Linked DNA regions of Homo sapiens: region 1 is reported to be linked to region 2. Evidence: microRNA targets listed by miRTarBase, many of them from high-throughput screens and not tested one by one. Region 2 holds a microRNA gene; the other region holds the end of a gene's coding sequence.

Region 1 (4,064 bases), not on the chromosome of region 2:
GACAGACACAAGGGTGTTTGTGAAGGCAAAGTATGCATGTGCGGGTCTCTGAGCTTGTACACACAGTGCACGTGTGTGTGATTGTGTGGCCATGAGTAATTTTGGTGACCAGAGTTATACAGGAGAATAGTTGTGGAGCCCAAATCTCTGGAGTTGTTCCCTCTTTCCTGCACCCAAAAAAGTTCAGAGAAATGTGTGCCCAGATGGAAAGAGATCCCCAGAGAGTCTAAGGAAGTGCCATCAAAGGACACATCTTTCCTAAGTTTACGTCTTTTTCCTAAGTGCCTGTTGAGGGAGGAAGATGGTTTAGTTCTTTCCCATGACCACCTGCTTTTTACCCTCAAAAACCACCATTTTGAGCCGGGCGCAGGGGCTTATGCCTGTAATTCCAGCACTTTGGGAGGCCAAGGCGGGCAGATTACCTGAGGTCAGGAGTTTGAGACCAGCCTGGCTAACATGGTGAAACCCCGTCTCTACTAAAAATACAAAAATTAGCCGGGTGTGGTGGTGCATGCCTGTAATCCCAGCTATTCGGGGGGCTGAGGCAGGAGAATCACTTGAACCCGGGAGGCAGAGGTTGCAGTGAGCCGAGATCATGCCACTGCACTCCAGCCTAGGCGACAAAGTGAGATTAGTCTGAAAAAACAAACAAACAAACAAACAAACAAACAAAACACTATTTTGGGCCAAGAGGCAGTGGCTCATGCTTGTAATCGAGCACTTTTCGAAGCTGGGGCAGGAGGATGGTTTTAGCCCAGGAGTTCGAGACCAGTCTGGGTAAGATAACGAGACCACATCTCTATAACAAAAATTTTTTTTAATATTAGCCAGGCATGGTGGCATGTGCCTGTAGTCCCAGCTACTAGGGAGGCTACAGTGACAAGACTGCTTGAACCCAGGAAGTTGAGTCTGCAGTGAGCTGTGATTGTGCCACTGCACTCCAGCCTGGGCGACAGAGAGATCCCATCTCAAAAACAACAACAACATCATTTCCCATCACAGTAAGAAATAAAATCCCTAGGGCACAAAGGCTGAGGAAATTCTAGTCATGGTCAATGGTTCCAAAAGAGAATTCCACATTTCTGGAAAATAGTTTATTAATTCATTATAAGGACAGATACATGAATCAATGCCTTAGCTTAACACTAAAGAGTATCATATTTGTAAGGAGAAAAAAAAAACGCTGGAAGGATAATTAAATAGTACAGCATAAACTAAATACAGACAAATAAATGAGCAAGTACTGATTACACTTGTCATGCATCAAGAAAAGGAAGATTTTTAATTGAGACTCAGAAAACTTAAGGCATCAATGGTAGGTGACAAAGGGATTAATACCCTGTAAAAGGCCAATAGATTCTTTTCTAATAAAAATACTGCTACAAAGACACAAACCTAACACTTCCAAATTACCCAGAGCCCAAATCATATATAGTGCTAGTGAGAAATGGCCACTTTCTTATCAACTGTGAGTTATAGGCAGATACCAGATTTATTACTTATTTGCTTTTGAGAAACAATTTTCCACCCAACCTAATGGGTTATAAATTGTCTCATTTGCAGCTATTTAATTTAAACCAGAACCTCAGTGCCTGTTAAACAAGAACATGAAAAATGACTATGTGGTATAATGCTAAGAGCCTACTGTTAAAACAGCCATTTAATTCAGGGCAGTTTTTTTTTCTTCTTTAAAAAAAAAAAATCAAACCAGCAAAATAAAATGAGGCTTTTGACCTTCAGAGCAATGATGAAACATACACAGTGGTGTTAGCCACAGCAGCGCTGAATGCTACAGAAATACTACAAGTGACAATTCTGTCTTTAACGAGATACAAAACCAACATTAATAATCTTTAGTGTTATCATAGGCTGGCTGAAGGAGGGGGAGGAGGTGGAAACGTAGGTGCAGACATCAACAGTGAGTGACACCCGAGTATAATAAACACAGATGCTTTCAGGGTTTGAGGAAGCCGCAACTGTGCTGAGAGACATTCCACCATTTAAAAAAAAAAAAAAAAAAAAGGAAAAATGGACTGGTTATTTCGAATTTGGCCCAGAAGGCAGAGTTAACTCTTGATGTGCCAATCAGACATCATTAGGGAGTAAAGACCCTAACATTCTATGCTCCTATGAGAGGGCTGAGGTGAAAAACCAAATAAATGACATTGTTTTCACTACACAGAAAATAGAAGTCAAGCTTGTCCCTGTGCGGCAGGTGAACAGAAAATGACTTGAGGATTCAATTTAAAGAAAAAACAAACTGAAATGAGCTACCCCTTTTCCTGTGCAAAGACCTCCTTGCCAGCACCCCAGAGGGTGAGATTCCTGTCATCCCCAATCCAGATCAAGTCAAGCCTCACAGGGTGGGAAGGGCCTCCCTGAACTCTCACTCCCCTTCTCTTCCTTTAGCTTCTTCTGGAAGAGAGGCCCAAATCATCTCCATCCAGTAAACTTGCCCCCCTGCATAGAAGGGAGGGCATCTTTTTATTCTGAGCCTCTGGATCACAGCCCCCTTCCCTGTCTCAAACATTCCCCTCTATGACTTGGATCCATCCATGGAGAACCCTTGGATCCCAATCCCAAAGGCAAGATGCAGGGAAGCCAGAAGATCTTCTCCACACCCGCACTGGGCGTGGGTGGGCTGCCTGGGGCAGGGCAAGCAGAAGCACTGAGTGAAGAGGAGGCAGGAGGATGGCAGGCGAGTGCGCGGCAGCCGCGGATACAGGAAGGGCACGGGGGCCTTGAAGCAGACATGAGGTAGTCACGTTGTTAGAGAAGGATGCAGAGTTTGAACCCAGGCAGGAGAACAAGATGACATAGTCTGGGAGAGGTGTGAGAGATAGCAGAGGAAGGAAAACAGGAGAGAGGAAAGGAAAGAGTATCTGGGAGCAGGAGAAGGGCACTGGTGCTGGGAGAGCGAGGTGACTGGGAGACAGAACACTAGAGCAGCCAGGGGCAAGGAAGGAGGGGAAGAGTGAGAGAAAGCGGATTTTCAAAACCAGGCACTTCCCAGATTACAAAATTAAATGCAGAGTTGCTCGGAGGGGAGCCAGGGCCACCCTCTCTATTTGGGCAATAAGGAGCTGGGAGGTGATGCAGCTGAAATGCCAGGCATTCAGAGCCTGCTTGCACCCAACCCAGCCAGACAGGAGAATGGGCTGGGACTGTCTTTGTCAGACAGGCATTGGAGACACTCTCAGAGTGTGTAATAAAAGGCTGGGCGATGGAGGTGGGGGCCCACAGGGCTGGGGACTGACCACTGTGGGGCACCGTTCTGACCTGGAGGACCAATCAGGCTGTAGTGACCACTGCCTGGGCCACGGTTTCCCAGCTCAACAACCAGTACGCATACATGCACTTCACACATGTGCACATCACATGTAGCTATGTCTCGTATGTCTTTCACATGTCACATGTGTATCACAAAGAGTATGGGGGGAGTGAATAATCCATGTTTTCCTCTCCCCTCAGCCAAAGCAACTTAGGAAGCTCCAAAGGGCTTGATGATGTATCTACAGGCACACATGTGGACATACACGGCCACAGGTATCGCATCCTATGTGATCCATACCTGCCTGCCCCAAACCACATCCTCTGGGAAGAGCTAGGCAGAGGAGGAGACCGGGGATCTGGGCAGGCCTGGGCTGGCTCCTAGAGGGCAGGGGGATTTGAGCTGGCAGCTATCTCCAGGGGTCTCCTCTAGCACCTCGCCTGGCTGGAGGTCCGGGTAGGAGCAGGAAGCACTGGCTGCCTCTGGCAAGCAGGTAAGTCTGTCTGGCCCGGGGGCTGCCAGCTCACACCCTCCCAACTCCCTGTCCAGCCAGGCTGCCCCCTGCCCTGGATCCCCAACACCCGAGATGAGATCAGGAGCCTCTGGAGGCAGGGGGTCCTCAGGCTCCAGGTCTTGGAGATGGAGGTCAGGGTTCCCGTTAGATGCACTAAAGTCAGAGTGGACAATGACTTCAGCCTCCACCTGGTTCCTGCAGGCTGGGGGTGACTTCTTCCTCCCATTGCCCTGATCAGAGCAGAGAACACAAAGACAAAGTGACCATTACTGAGAGTAA
Region 2 (4,064 bases):
GGTGGTATGCACGTGTTGGGCACAAGGGGTCCTGCCTCCCAAGGGACCTCCGGGCGGAAGGGCAGACACGGCAGGGAAAGATGACAGCGGACAGGGCAGAGGAGGCAGCCAGCAGACTTCAGGCCCCAGGCAAACCACCTCAGCTGTACCCCCTGCACAGATGGAGAGCAGAGAATGGGCTGGGCCAAGGGGCAGCCCTGCCCTCACCAGTGCGGCCTGTCTTCAGCCTCCAACCCACTGAGAGAGAGAATGGAGAGGTCGTGGGTGGCAATAAGGCGCACACAACCCAACTCACATGGGCAGGACAGGCCCGGGCAGGCCGGTGATCAAACTGAACCGCAGCGGCTGAAATTCCCACAGAAAAGGCCAAACAAACCCAGCACCCCGCGGTTTCCAGAGCTGAGCCTCAAAGAACCCGGCCTGAAAAGGTTAGAGACAAGCGGATGGAGAAATATTTGTTAGCCAAAAGAAACCAAGGGTAGAAATACCTCATGAAACACTATAAGCTCTCGGTCAAAGAAACATTAAACAAAGAGAAATATATTATATTTTGATAAGAGACCTGATCTACCAAAAGAACAGTCATTAATTTTTAAGCTTTAAAAAAAAACACTGAACTATATAAAGCAAAAAATGGTTATTAATGTAAAAAGAATATTATAAGACTATAATCACAGTAGAAAAATACACTTTTCCAAGAAATCGAGCAGACAGAAAAAAATAAGTAAAGCTATACTGATTTAAATAACTCAACTGAGTTAATATATAATTAAAACAACATATAAAGAAAGGATACATATCCTCCTATATATAAATAAAATATATATAAATGAGAGAACTTTTTTTTTTGAGACGGAGTCTTGCTCTGTCGCCAGGCTGAAGTACAGTGGCGCAATCTCAGCTCACTGCAACCTCTGCCTCCCAGGTTCAAGCGATTATCCTGCCTGAGCCTCCTGGGTAGCTGGGACTACAGGCACACGCCACCACGCCCAGCTAATTTTTGTATTTTTAGTAGAGATGGGGTTTCACTATGTTGGTCAGAATGGTCTCAATCTCTTGACCTTGTGATCTGCCCACCCTGACCTTCCGAAGTGCTGGGATTACAGCTGTGGGCCTCTGCGCCCGGCCGAGAACTTTAAATACAATATTGATACATACATACAGACGTCTTTAGACTGAAACAAAATCCTAAGAGCATACTTTCTCTTCAAATGCCTGCAGAGCATGTACAAATTATGATTATGTGTACACCAAGTCATACAAAAATATGCACCCCCATTAAAATAATCAAGTGTACTCAAACAATAATTTTCCCATAGCACACTGACAAAAATGAGAGAGACTGAACCTACCCAGTGCTGGTACAGCACAAATGAAAAATATGCATCCTCTTACACTGGAATTAGGAAGATCAGTTGGAACGAGGCTTCTGGAGCAATTTGACAGTCAACCTAATGATGTTTTAAGTGCACGGGCTCACTGACCCAGCTTCCACTTCCTGGAATTTGTCTAGTAGTGATACTTAGAAGTTTACAAAATATATGTATAATAATTGTTTGATGCCAATTTGGAATTGGTATAAACACTGCTACAACCACATAAATATCCATTCGCAAGGTATCAAAAGAGCAAGTTATATTTGCACACATACTGATACCAAAAGATGCTTATAACACATTAAAATGGACAGAATGTAAAACACAGGGCCCTGCCTATAGAATTATACTCTATGAAAATGCTCACACACATCACACTATGTTTAGACACAGAAAAAAGATACACTCTCACCCAACAGCAGCCCAGTGTAGGAGGGAGAGAGCCAGCTCCATTCAATGTCTATTTAGACACTTTGAGCCATAGCGCTTAATTTTGTCTTGGAATGATCATAAACCATTTCTTTACATCAGTCAATACATAAACAATTTAACTCAATAAAACTTTCATATCTAAAAAAACCTGGAATCTTGCCCTCTGGAATTTTCAGACAAAGACGATTCCACCCAGGGAAAGATGTGTGTAAGCGTTCCGGCAATCTCAAAGAGAGTGACCCAGACAGACCCTGAGCCTCTCTGCCTCTGCTCTAAGGAGCAGGACCCAGAGCCAAGGCTAACAGAGCCTCAGGTGCCTGTCCAAGCGTCTGTCCAGTGGCCACCGTCTTCTCTCTCATGTGGACGCAAGACAGAAGTCGATGGCTAAGTGCCCTTGAAGGCCACGGTGCGCTGGAAGTGGCAGGAAGCTGGGCAGCACAGGACTGGCTCTGCAGGAGCCCCACACTCAGGCAGGTCGGCGGCAGGCCTCGAGGTTTCATTATGGTGCACGCTCTCGGTGACTTTCCAAGGACAGAAAGTGTGAAGTCGTAAATGGATGGGCCCATGACATGCTTCTGAAGCTCAGAGCAGGACAAGCTTGCTTCCCAATCATGTGGGTCCCCCACCTACCAGCTCTGTGACCTCAGGCAAATTACTTCTTCCCTCCAGGCCTGAGATGATCTGGGGCTGTACTAAATGCTTGTAAAATGCTTAGTGCAGCCCCTCACAGAGGCCCTCAAACACCAGGAGCAACTGTGGCCACGACCTCAGTGGGAACATGAGCTTCTTCCCAGACAGCCCAGACGCCCAGTTGGAGGAGCACTCCCACCCCTCACACAACCCCTCATGAAACAACAAAGACACTGGGCAAGAAACCAGCTCTCCACATCACAACCTGACCTTTCAACATCACCCTTGTCAAAAAGCATCGAGGAAACCTGTGTGCCTCTCAAGTCAGCCTGCAAACCGGGGTCGCAGACTTGACTCCACATCCTCCCAGGTTTTATCATTCTTCTTTCACCAAGAGGAAGAATAAACCATCCATTTTGCACTTTGTGCTGTCAAAAACCAACAGTGACCACTATCAAGAAAAACAAAAGTCTCAAATCCAGAAAGCAAGCTGCAGTCACAAGAACTTCTACTTTGGGCAAAGAAAGCCCCGCTGTGTGCCCAGAGAAGAAATGACCCGGCCTTACCTGGATGGCTTTGGGAGCTCATTGCTAGCAATGTCCACTCCTTTAAGTGATTCGAAATGGCTCAAAATTTCCACGGAAACGATAGCTCCAACGAGCTCCAAACTCCCACCAACACATACAAGTACCGGGACGGTGAGGGCTGGGTCACAGACGTTCAAGCGCCGAGCCTCGCCGGCAAGGTCTCATGAGCCAGGTAACCCACAAGTTGAACAGAGGCGTCCGCTGGCTTCTGCAGATGAACCTGCAAGGTCAGAAGGAGAAAAGAGACTGGAGTTACAACATGGAAGTTCCGATCTGGAAAACAACATCCAACTAGGGAAATGATGACTTCCTCTTTTTTTTTGGAGACAGAATCTTGCTCTATCGCCCAGGCTGGAGTGTGGTGGCACGATCTGGGCTCACTGCAACCTCCACCACCCCTGCAACCCTGGGTTCGAGCAATTCTCCTGCCTCAGCCTCCCGAGTAGCTGGGAACACAGGTGCATGCCACCAGGCACAGCTAATTTTTGTATTTTTAGTAGAAACGGGGTTTTGCCATGTTGGCCCAGGCTGGTCTCAAACTCCTGACCTCAAGTGATCCACCCACCTCAGCCTCCCAAAGTGCTGGGATTACAGGCTTGAGCCACCACGCCCCACCAACTTCCTTCTTTATCCTTGTTCTGACCAAGGACTGATAGAACAGTTCGACGGAATCATTTCTACAAATACGAGCAGTGGGATTTTTGTTAGTAAATCACAGACATGTAAAAATGTCTCCAGAGAGCAGGGTTTCTCAGCCTCAGTACCACTGGGATTTTGGTTTGCGTATTTAGGTGTTGGGGTGTAGGGCTGCCATACACATTATAAGATATTTAGCAGGATCCTGGGCCTCCACACACCAGATGCCAGCAGCATCTTCCAGGTCATGACAACCAAGAATGTCTCCAGGGAGTGCCAAAGGTCCTCTGGGGGATAATATCATCCCCTGGTTCAAAATATCTGATCTAGAGACACCTTCCTTACCCCTTCCAGAAGTTTCTCCAACATTAGGCTTTTGAAAGGAAGCAGAGTATCTTCCAAC

The links. The annotated mature microRNA hsa-miR-2467-3p reads AGCAGAGGCAGAGAGGCUCAGG and lies in region 2 at 2,059-2,080, opposite strand. An mRNA with a match to its seed (bases 2 to 7 or 8) in the 3' UTR can be bound and repressed. Matches are read on the target gene's strand: a 7mer-m8 pairs with bases 2 to 8, a 7mer-A1 pairs with bases 2 to 7 and ends in A, and an 8mer does both.
Region 1: miRTarBase lists IGDCC4 as a target of hsa-miR-2467-3p. Seed matches in the 3' UTR shown: 7mer-A1 at 3,028-3,034, 7mer-m8 at 2,843-2,849 and 7mer-A1 at 2,781-2,787.

What each region holds. Positions count from the first base shown.
Region 1 is chr15:65,380,405-65,384,468 of GRCh38, forward strand. IGDCC4 (immunoglobulin superfamily DCC subclass member 4) reads right to left here. Exons shown (of 20, transcript NM_020962.3): 20 at 1,080-4,015. The coding sequence ends at 3,605. Among named protein-coding and RNA genes, the nearest start is that of IGDCC3, 4.4 kb to the left of the region's middle.
Region 2 is chr2:239,349,674-239,353,737 of GRCh38, forward strand. MIR2467 (microRNA 2467) reads right to left here and starts at 2,131; the gene lies at 2,051-2,131. It overlaps HDAC4 (histone deacetylase 4), which reads right to left. Exons shown (of 27, transcript NM_001378414.1): 2 at 3,005-3,245. The coding sequence starts at 3,026. RefSeq lists a silencer at 2,794-2,987.